Linked DNA regions of Homo sapiens: regions 1 and 3 are each linked to region 2. The links come from fine-mapping of genetic effects on gene expression. A gene starts in region 2. Each other region holds a variant in brackets. All regions are shown on one strand. Distances are between the middles of the regions. Region 1 overlaps IL21R (interleukin 21 receptor). Region 2 holds the start of IL21R (interleukin 21 receptor). Region 3 overlaps IL21R (interleukin 21 receptor).

Region 1 (2,777 bases), 39 kb after region 2:
GAGGGGCTGGGGTATAAGAGGTGTCTGTGATTCACACTCTGGGGGTCCAGGTTTGCACCTCTTTGCTGAGTGGATGTCACACCACAGAGCGTGAGAGTGAAGCTTCACACACTCCCAGACACATGCACACTCACGCAAATTCCCAGGGTCACAGACTCACGCACACACAGACTCATAGATGCGCCCTCAAACTCACAGATGTCTCCCCAGCCCCAGCCTGCATGGCATGGACACAGAGGCCCACACTGCCTCTCTCTCTTGCTCTCTCTCACTCTCATACACACTCACACATACATACACACACACACACACACACACGTACACAATACACACACACTCACACATATACTCTCACATCACTCATACATGGGCACACACACGCACACACTCACACATGCATTCTCACACACGTGTAGACTCACACATGCACACACATATACACTTTCTCACACGTGTGCACACACGCACATATACACATACTCATACACTCTCACATCACACACGGGCACACATATGCACACACTCACACATGCATTCTCACACACGTGTACACTCATGCACAGACACACACATTACTCACGGGCACACATGCACACACTCACACATGCACAGACTCACAAGGGGACCCTCCTTGCCACTTGTCTTGCAGCGTGAATCCAAGCATTTCTCTCTGGCATTCCCTCCCTCCCTGCCAGGATCTGCAGCTAGCCTGGTCCCAGCTGGGGCAGGAAGTGATTTTCTAACCACCTCCCGCCGAGGGTCCCTTCCTCCTCCTGGGCCCTGGGCCTCGCTGGGCTGAGCAGCCCCTCTTCACGACCCCCAGGCTCTGCAAACATCTCCCGAGTACCCACGGGGCAGTTCTCAGTACCCTGGTGTCTTCTGGGACTCATCCTCACCCAGCCACACAGGGAAGCCGAGAGCCGGCCTCCACCTGCCCCGGGGAAGACAAAAGAGGGGTTAGAAACGATTTCAGTCAAAAACATCCCATTACTGGAACAGCAACAGCAACAACCCAGTGTTCACCATGGCATTCTGTAAAATGTGCACCTCTGTCACCTCGGGGCGTGGTGGGAGCCCTCAGTGCGGGTTTCAGGATCACAGGCAGCCTTAGAGCTCCTTTCTGGAGGCCTTGCAAGGTTCATTAGTTAATCTGACAAATATATATATATATATATATATATATAGAGAGAGAGAGAGAGAGAGAGAGAGAGAGAGCGAGC[A/G]AGCGCGCGCCAGGGTGTAGCTTTGTCCTCCAGCCTGGGGTGCAGTGGCACAACCATAGCTCATTGCAGCCTGGAACTCCTGGGCTCAAGCGATCCTCCCACTTCGGCCTCCTGAGTGGTTGGGACTACAGGTGCACATCACCATCCTGGCTAATTTTTAAATTTTTTGTAGAGCTGGGATCTTGCTGTGTTGTCCAGGCTGGTCTTGAACACCTGGCCTCAAGCAATCCTCCCACCTCAGCCTCCCAAAGTGCTGAGATTTTTGGCATGAGCCACCTTGCCCAGCCTAATTTGCCAAATATTTATTGAGGGCCTACTGTGCCCCAGGCTGTGTTCTAGGAGCTGTGGGCACAGACTGAACCTGGAGGACAAAACCTCTGCCCCAAGGAGCTAAGAGCCCAGTGAGGGAGGCACATAGTAAACAAAATCACAGGGTGAGAGGTGCAGAGTGTTAGATGGTGGCAGATTGAAAGTGAAGAAGGTGGCTGGGTGTGGTGGCTCACACCTGTAGTCCCAGCACTTTGGGAGGTTGAGGTGGGTGGATCACTTGAGGTCAGAAGATCAAGACCAGTCTGGCCAACATGGGGAAACTACTTCTCTACTAAAAATACAAAAATTAGCCAGTCATGGTGGTGCGCACCTATGGTCCCAGCTACTTGGGAGGCTGAGGCCGTGTAATCGCTTGGGCTTGGGAGGTGGAGACTGCAGTGAGCTGAGATCACGCCACTGCACTCCAGCCTGGGTGACAGAGATTCTGTCTCAAAAAAAAAAAAAAAAAAAAGAAAGAAGAGAAAAAAGAAAGGGAGGGAGGGAGGGAAGGAGGGAGAAAGGAAGGAAGGAAGGAGAACAAAAAAAGAAAAAGTGGAGAAGGTGAGGGCAGAGGCCTGCAACTCCTCTCTGACACTAATAGACACTTGTCACTCAGTTCCTCTGAAGTTACTGCCTTCTGCTAAATAGCTTCATCCCTTTGAACTTGAAGCCCCATGATATAGGAACTGAGCCCATTTTACAAGAGAGGAATTTAAGGCCCTTAACATATTGTGTTCTGCTCAAGTTCATGAAATGTCCTTCGAATGGAGCAAAAACAGAATGCCGGCTTTGACCTTCACCTGGAGGCCGCCCATGAAAGCTTGCTGTTATGGCTCAGAGCTCGGCTCTTGCACTTGCCAGGAGACGCTGAAAGATGAGGACCATCAGATTGGCCTCCCAGGGCCACTGTGGGGTGTCAAACTGCCCAGAGCAGGGCAGCCAGGCAGGCTCTGTGTAAATGGCAGCCCTCACCATTAGCATTCATGCTAAGAAGAGTCATCAACTGCTTGAAGTAGCTGGGGTTGAAAGAAAATGATACCATCATTTAGAACAGAAATGGAAAATGAATGGATTTGCCAGCACGTTGCTGAGAACATTTTTGGATGGGTTGCTAACTTTAAAACTTAATATAGGCCAGGTGCAGTGGCTTGTTCTTGCAATCCCAGGATTTTGGGAGGCTGAGGTGGGAGCATCACTTGAGGCCAGGAGTTTGAGACCAGCCTGGGCAAAGATAGTGAGACCCCATTT
Region 2 (2,718 bases):
CCTTCTCGAGTATTTCTGAGGTTTAAATGAGAGGGTGCATCTTTAAAGTCCTTAAAACCCTGGCACACAATGAGCTTTCAGCAAATATTAGCTCTTTTTACTGTCTCTTCTCCTGATCTTTCAACCACTACAAATTTCAGTGCATGTTATCAGAGAATTCACCCCGAAGATCAAGAGAAAGAAAAACAAAAGCTGGTGTCTTCCCAAGGTTCGTTCTCCAGAGAACACGACACACTTCGGTAGCTGGGAAGAGCTCTACAGGGCCAGGATCCCTCAAATCAACCACAGGGGAATTTGTACCAAGTTCCTCAAAAACAGCTAGAAAAAAAAAGAAAGAAAGAATAGCAAGACGCTTTCTCTTTTTTCTCTGGAGTGGTCACGAAAGTCAACAGCAAGTTGATTCCCAAAAATGAGTCAGCAGGGAGAGCTACAAATTGCATCTTGTTATCAAAACAGCATAAAATAGCCTCCCCCAACTGTGGGACATTTCATCCTGGTATGGCCCCGTTTTCACAGCCTGGTATAAGCTTAGGAATCAAACACACCCAGGTTCAAATCCCAGCTCTAATTCTTCTTGGCTTGTGTGACGTTTCACTCCTCTGGGCCTCAGTCTCTCCATCTGTAAAATGGGACTAATCTTGTCTGCCTCACACTTTGTGGGATAAAGTGAGATCATGTAGGCACCAAAGTAATTCGAGGTGGTGGTGATGGCAGTGGTAGTGGTGGTGGTGGTAGCGGTGGTGGTGGTAGCAATTCTCTTGCTCTCCTTTGGAGACTGCACTAGGCATTAAGCTTGTTACATTTTGTCTCCTGGTTTCTTGAATGTCTTCCAGAAACATCTGACCCTCTCATGGGCCTCTGGCATGTTAGCAAGATGAAAACTCTCTTGAGAATTTCTTTTCTCTATTTTCTTCTTGAATTCTCATGTGTTAATGTCTGCCCTCTTCCTCATAGCTAGGTGCCCCCATTTGACAGATGGGCAAAGTGAGGCATTCAGAGAGGTGATGTGACGTGCCCAAGGGGTCCTGCTCCCTGGAGCTCTGCAGCAGGAGACTGGATCCAAAGGAAATGGAGGCAGAGAGGCATGGGGGTCAAGCCAGAGCAGAGGGTCCCAAGCTCAGACCCTATTAGGCAGGTAAGGCTCAGGAATAAGAAACAGGCTGGTTTGCAAAGTCTGAAAAAGGGGCTTCCGTGGGACCTTGGGCAAGGTTCTGGTCCTTCTCTCTGTGCTGAGGGGCTGGAGTCGGCCACTGAGGACTCTGGGTCCACGGGTGAAACTGTGCCACATCTTCACACCTCTGGCCTCAGTTTCCATATCTGTGCAATGTGGTGGCTCCAGGAGGCACTGCCTGCCTCATGGGTTATGACTGAGAGGCCTGTGGGGATGATGTCACAGGTCCCTAAGAGGGAAGTGTCACCCCGATGGCCCCAAATGTCTTACTTGCAGGTGACCTTTGGTGACAGTGGGTGCCTGCTGTGGGGCCAGGCCCCCTCCCACCTCTTTCTCACTCCCTCCCAGGAGGAGCCCAGCTGCGGGTGGGCGGGGCTGGCGGGGAGCGGCTCACCACATCCTCCTCTTCCTCCCCACTCTGCACATGCGGCTGGGTGGCAGCCAGCGGCCTCAGACAGACCCACTGGCGTCTCTCTGCTGAGTGACCGTAAGCTCGGCGTCTGGCCCTCTGCCTGCCTCTCCCTGAGTGTGGCTGACAGCCACGCAGCTGTGTCTGTCTGTCTGCGGCCCGTGCATCCCTGCTGCGGCCGCCTGGTACCTTCCTTGCCGTCTCTTTCCTCTGTCTGCTGCTCTGTGGGACACCTGCCTGGAGGCCCAGCTGCCCGTCATCAGAGTGACAGGTCTTATGACAGCCTGATTGGTGACTCGGGCTGGGTGTGGATTCTCACCCCAGGCCTCTGCCTGCTTTCTCAGACCCTCATCTGTCACCCCCACGCTGAACCCAGCTGCCACCCCCAGAAGCCCATCAGACTGCCCCCAGCACACGGAATGGATTTCTGAGAAAGAAGCCGAAACAGAAGGTAATTCCAGCCCTGGTTTTCTGCTGGGACCAGGGTGCCTTCTCTGCCCAGGAGGGACTGTTCCCTGCCTGCTGCATCTAGTGTCACAGTGGGAGGGCTCGGAGGACTGTGCCCAAGTCACAATTGGGGACACTGAGGCAAAGAAGATTCATGCAGTGAGGCTGGGCAGAAATGAGGTTGGGGTCTCTTGTTCAGCACAGCTTAGGGGCCCAGCAGCAGGGATGTGGCTGAGACGACCCTCTATCTTGAAAACCAGCCTCCAAAATGTAGCGGGCTGGGGAAGGAAAGCCAGTTTCAAGCCAAACATAACATGTCAATCACCCGATTCTGGGCGGCTGAGTCGGGAGGTGACGGGCATGGGTGTAGAGCCTGATGGGACCCATTCTGTGTCAGTTTCTATGTCTTACCACCTTGATTCCACCCAGTCATTCAAAACAATGGCTGGTGTGCCCATTTCGCAGATGAGGCAATGAGGCTGCGAGAGGTAGAGTGATTTTCCCTCGGTGACTCAACTGGGACGTAGCAGGTCGGGCAGTCAAGCCAGGTGACCCCATGAGCTGTCGCTGCATCTTTCTCATGAAGCACGGGGAACGGGTCGGATGGTAAGAGGCCAACCCAGTTCCCTGTGCATGTGGAGGAGAGGAGGGTGGGGAGGTCAGTGGAGGCTGAGCCTTGAAGGATGGGAAA
Region 3 (2,777 bases), 48 kb after region 2:
CCTGGGAGGCAGAGGTTGCAGTGAACCGAGATGGCACCACTGCATTCCAGCCTGGGCAGCAGAGCCAGACTGTCTCAAAAGAATAAAAGTAAAAGAAAAATAAACCCTCACCTTACCCTCATCCTGTGCTATGACTCTCTCTTTTTCTCTCTCACAGAAATGGGTGGGTGCACCCTTCACTGGCTCCAGCCTGGAGCTGGGACCCTGGAGCCCAGAGGTGCCCTCCACCCTGGAGGTGTACAGCTGCCACCCACCACGGAGCCCGGCCAAGAGGCTGCAGCTCACGGAGCTACAAGAACCAGCAGAGCTGGTGGAGTCTGACGGTGTGCCCAAGCCCAGCTTCTGGCCGACAGCCCAGAACTCGGGGGGCTCAGCTTACAGTGAGGAGAGGGATCGGCCATACGGCCTGGTGTCCATTGACACAGTGACTGTGCTAGATGCAGAGGGGCCATGCACCTGGCCCTGCAGCTGTGAGGATGACGGCTACCCAGCCCTGGACCTGGATGCTGGCCTGGAGCCCAGCCCAGGCCTAGAGGACCCACTCTTGGATGCAGGGACCACAGTCCTGTCCTGTGGCTGTGTCTCAGCTGGCAGCCCTGGGCTAGGAGGGCCCCTGGGAAGCCTCCTGGACAGACTAAAGCCACCCCTTGCAGATGGGGAGGACTGGGCTGGGGGACTGCCCTGGGGTGGCCGGTCACCTGGAGGGGTCTCAGAGAGTGAGGCGGGCTCACCCCTGGCCGGCCTGGATATGGACACGTTTGACAGTGGCTTTGTGGGCTCTGACTGCAGCAGCCCTGTGGAGTGTGACTTCACCAGCCCCGGGGACGAAGGACCCCCCCGGAGCTACCTCCGCCAGTGGGTGGTCATTCCTCCGCCACTTTCGAGCCCTGGACCCCAGGCCAGCTAATGAGGCTGACTGGATGTCCAGAGCTGGCCAGGCCACTGGGCCCTGAGCCAGAGACAAGGTCACCTGGGCTGTGATGTGAAGACACCTGCAGCCTTTGGTCTCCTGGATGGGCCTTTGAGCCTGATGTTTACAGTGTCTGTGTGTGTGTGTGCATATGTGTGTGTGTGCATATGCATGTGTGTGTGTGTGTGTGTCTTAGGTGCGCAGTGGCATGTCCACGTGTGTGTGTGATTGCACGTGCCTGTGGGCCTGGGATAATGCCCATGGTACTCCATGCATTCACCTGCCCTGT[G/A]CATGTCTGGACTCACGGAGCTCACCCATGTGCACAAGTGTGCACAGTAAACGTGTTTGTGGTCAACAGATGACAACAGCCGTCCTCCCTCCTAGGGTCTTGTGTTGCAAGTTGGTCCACAGCATCTCCGGGGCTTTGTGGGATCAGGGCATTGCCTGTGACTGAGGCGGAGCCCAGCCCTCCAGCGTCTGCCTCCAGGAGCTGCAAGAAGTCCATATTGTTCCTTATCACCTGCCAACAGGAAGCGAAAGGGGATGGAGTGAGCCCATGGTGACCTCGGGAATGGCAATTTTTTGGGCGGCCCCTGGACGAAGGTCTGAATCCCGACTCTGATACCTTCTGGCTGTGCTACCTGAGCCAAGTCGCCTCCCCTCTCTGGGCTAGAGTTTCCTTATCCAGACAGTGGGGAAGGCATGACACACCTGGGGGAAATTGGCGATGTCACCCGTGTACGGTACGCAGCCCAGAGCAGACCCTCAATAAACGTCAGCTTCCTTCCTTCTGCGGCCAGAGCCGAGGCGGGCGGGGGTGAGAACATCAATCGTCAGCGACAGCCTGGGCACCCGCGGGGCCGTCCCGCCTGCAGAGGGCCACTCGGGGGGGTTTCCAGGCTTAAAATCAGTCCGTTTCGTCTCTTGGAAACAGCTCCCCACCAACCAAGATTTCTTTTTCTAACTTCTGCTACTAAGTTTTTAAAAATTCCCTTTATGCACCCAAGAGATATTTATTAAACACCAATTACGTAGCAGGCCATGGCTCATGGGACCCACCCCCCGTGGCACTCATGGAGGGGGCTGCAGGTTGGAACTATGCAGTGTGCTCCGGCCACACATCCTGCTGGGCCCCCTACCCTGCCCCAATTCAATCCTGCCAATAAATCCTGTCTTATTTGTTCATCCTGGAGAATTGAAGGGAGGTCAAGTTGTTTGTCAATGATTTGTCAGAGAACCTGTTGAAATGTGAATTAAGAAGCTAAGAAAATATTTCTTAGCAACATTTTCTTTTTCTTTTTTTTTTTTTTCTTTTGAGACAGAGTCTCACTCTCGTCGCCCAGGCTGGAATGCAGTGGTGCGATCTCGGCTCTCTGCAACCTCTGTCTCCCGGGTTCAAGCGATTTCCTGCGTCAGCCCCAGAGTAGCTGGAATTACAGGCACACACCACCACGCCTGGCTAATTTTTGTATTTTTAGTAGAGCTGGGGCCACCCTGGCCCGGCCCCGTCTTCCTCCCCAAAGGTCAGACTGCAGGCTGCAGGGCTGTGCTGGAGGAGCCAGCTCTAGCTCACCCATGCTTTTGCAACAGGGTCGGGTTGGAAGTCAGCACAGGTCAGTCCTGCGGAAGGTTCCTTCGTGACTCATCTGTGAAGTGGGGTGGTTGGGAGAGGTAGCTGAGAGAATGCATGAGAGTCCTCGGTGCCTGGCAGGAGGCTGGAAGGTTCTAGAACACTGATGGTTATAAGAGTGGGACTGTGAGCCTGGGATCGGGGGGTGTGAGACTTGGATGGGAGCACAAGAGTGGAAACACAGCTTCTGCACGGAGCAGGCGCAGCCCTCAACACCCCGTGCACCTGCACCCTAGG

Evidence for each region. PIP is the estimated chance that this variant, and not a neighbour inherited with it, causes the effect. A credible set is the group of variants that fine-mapping cannot tell apart.
Region 1: its variant is the best candidate, but not a certain one, in a credible set for the expression of IL21R in CD4 T cells (CEDAR, PIP 0.55).
Region 3: its variant is the best candidate, but not a certain one, in a credible set for the expression of IL21R in whole blood (INTERVAL, PIP 0.70).

What each region holds. Positions count from the first base shown.
Region 1 is chr16:27,439,066-27,441,842 of GRCh38, forward strand. All of the region lies in intron 4 of IL21R (interleukin 21 receptor), which reads left to right. Among named protein-coding and RNA genes, the nearest start is that of IL21R-AS1, 13 kb to the right of the region's middle. RefSeq lists an enhancer at 1-328. The variant A/G (reference allele first, on the strand shown) is at 1,221.
Region 2 is chr16:27,400,588-27,403,305 of GRCh38, forward strand. It overlaps IL21R (interleukin 21 receptor), which reads left to right and starts at 1,587. Exons shown (of 9, transcript NM_181078.3): 1 at 1,587-2,031. RefSeq lists enhancers at 1,664-2,206, 2,099-2,218.
Region 3 is chr16:27,448,377-27,451,153 of GRCh38, forward strand. IL21R (interleukin 21 receptor) reads left to right here. Exons shown (of 9, transcript NM_181078.3): 9 at 158-2,777. The coding sequence ends at 907. IL21R-AS1 (IL21R antisense RNA 1) reads right to left here. Exons shown (of 3, transcript NR_037158.1): 3 at 1-1,430. Among named protein-coding and RNA genes, the nearest start is that of IL21R-AS1, 3.6 kb to the right of the region's middle. RefSeq lists enhancers at 270-329, 630-869, 1,132-2,009, 1,670-1,829, 1,850-1,899 and 1 more. The variant G/A (reference allele first, on the strand shown) is at 1,200.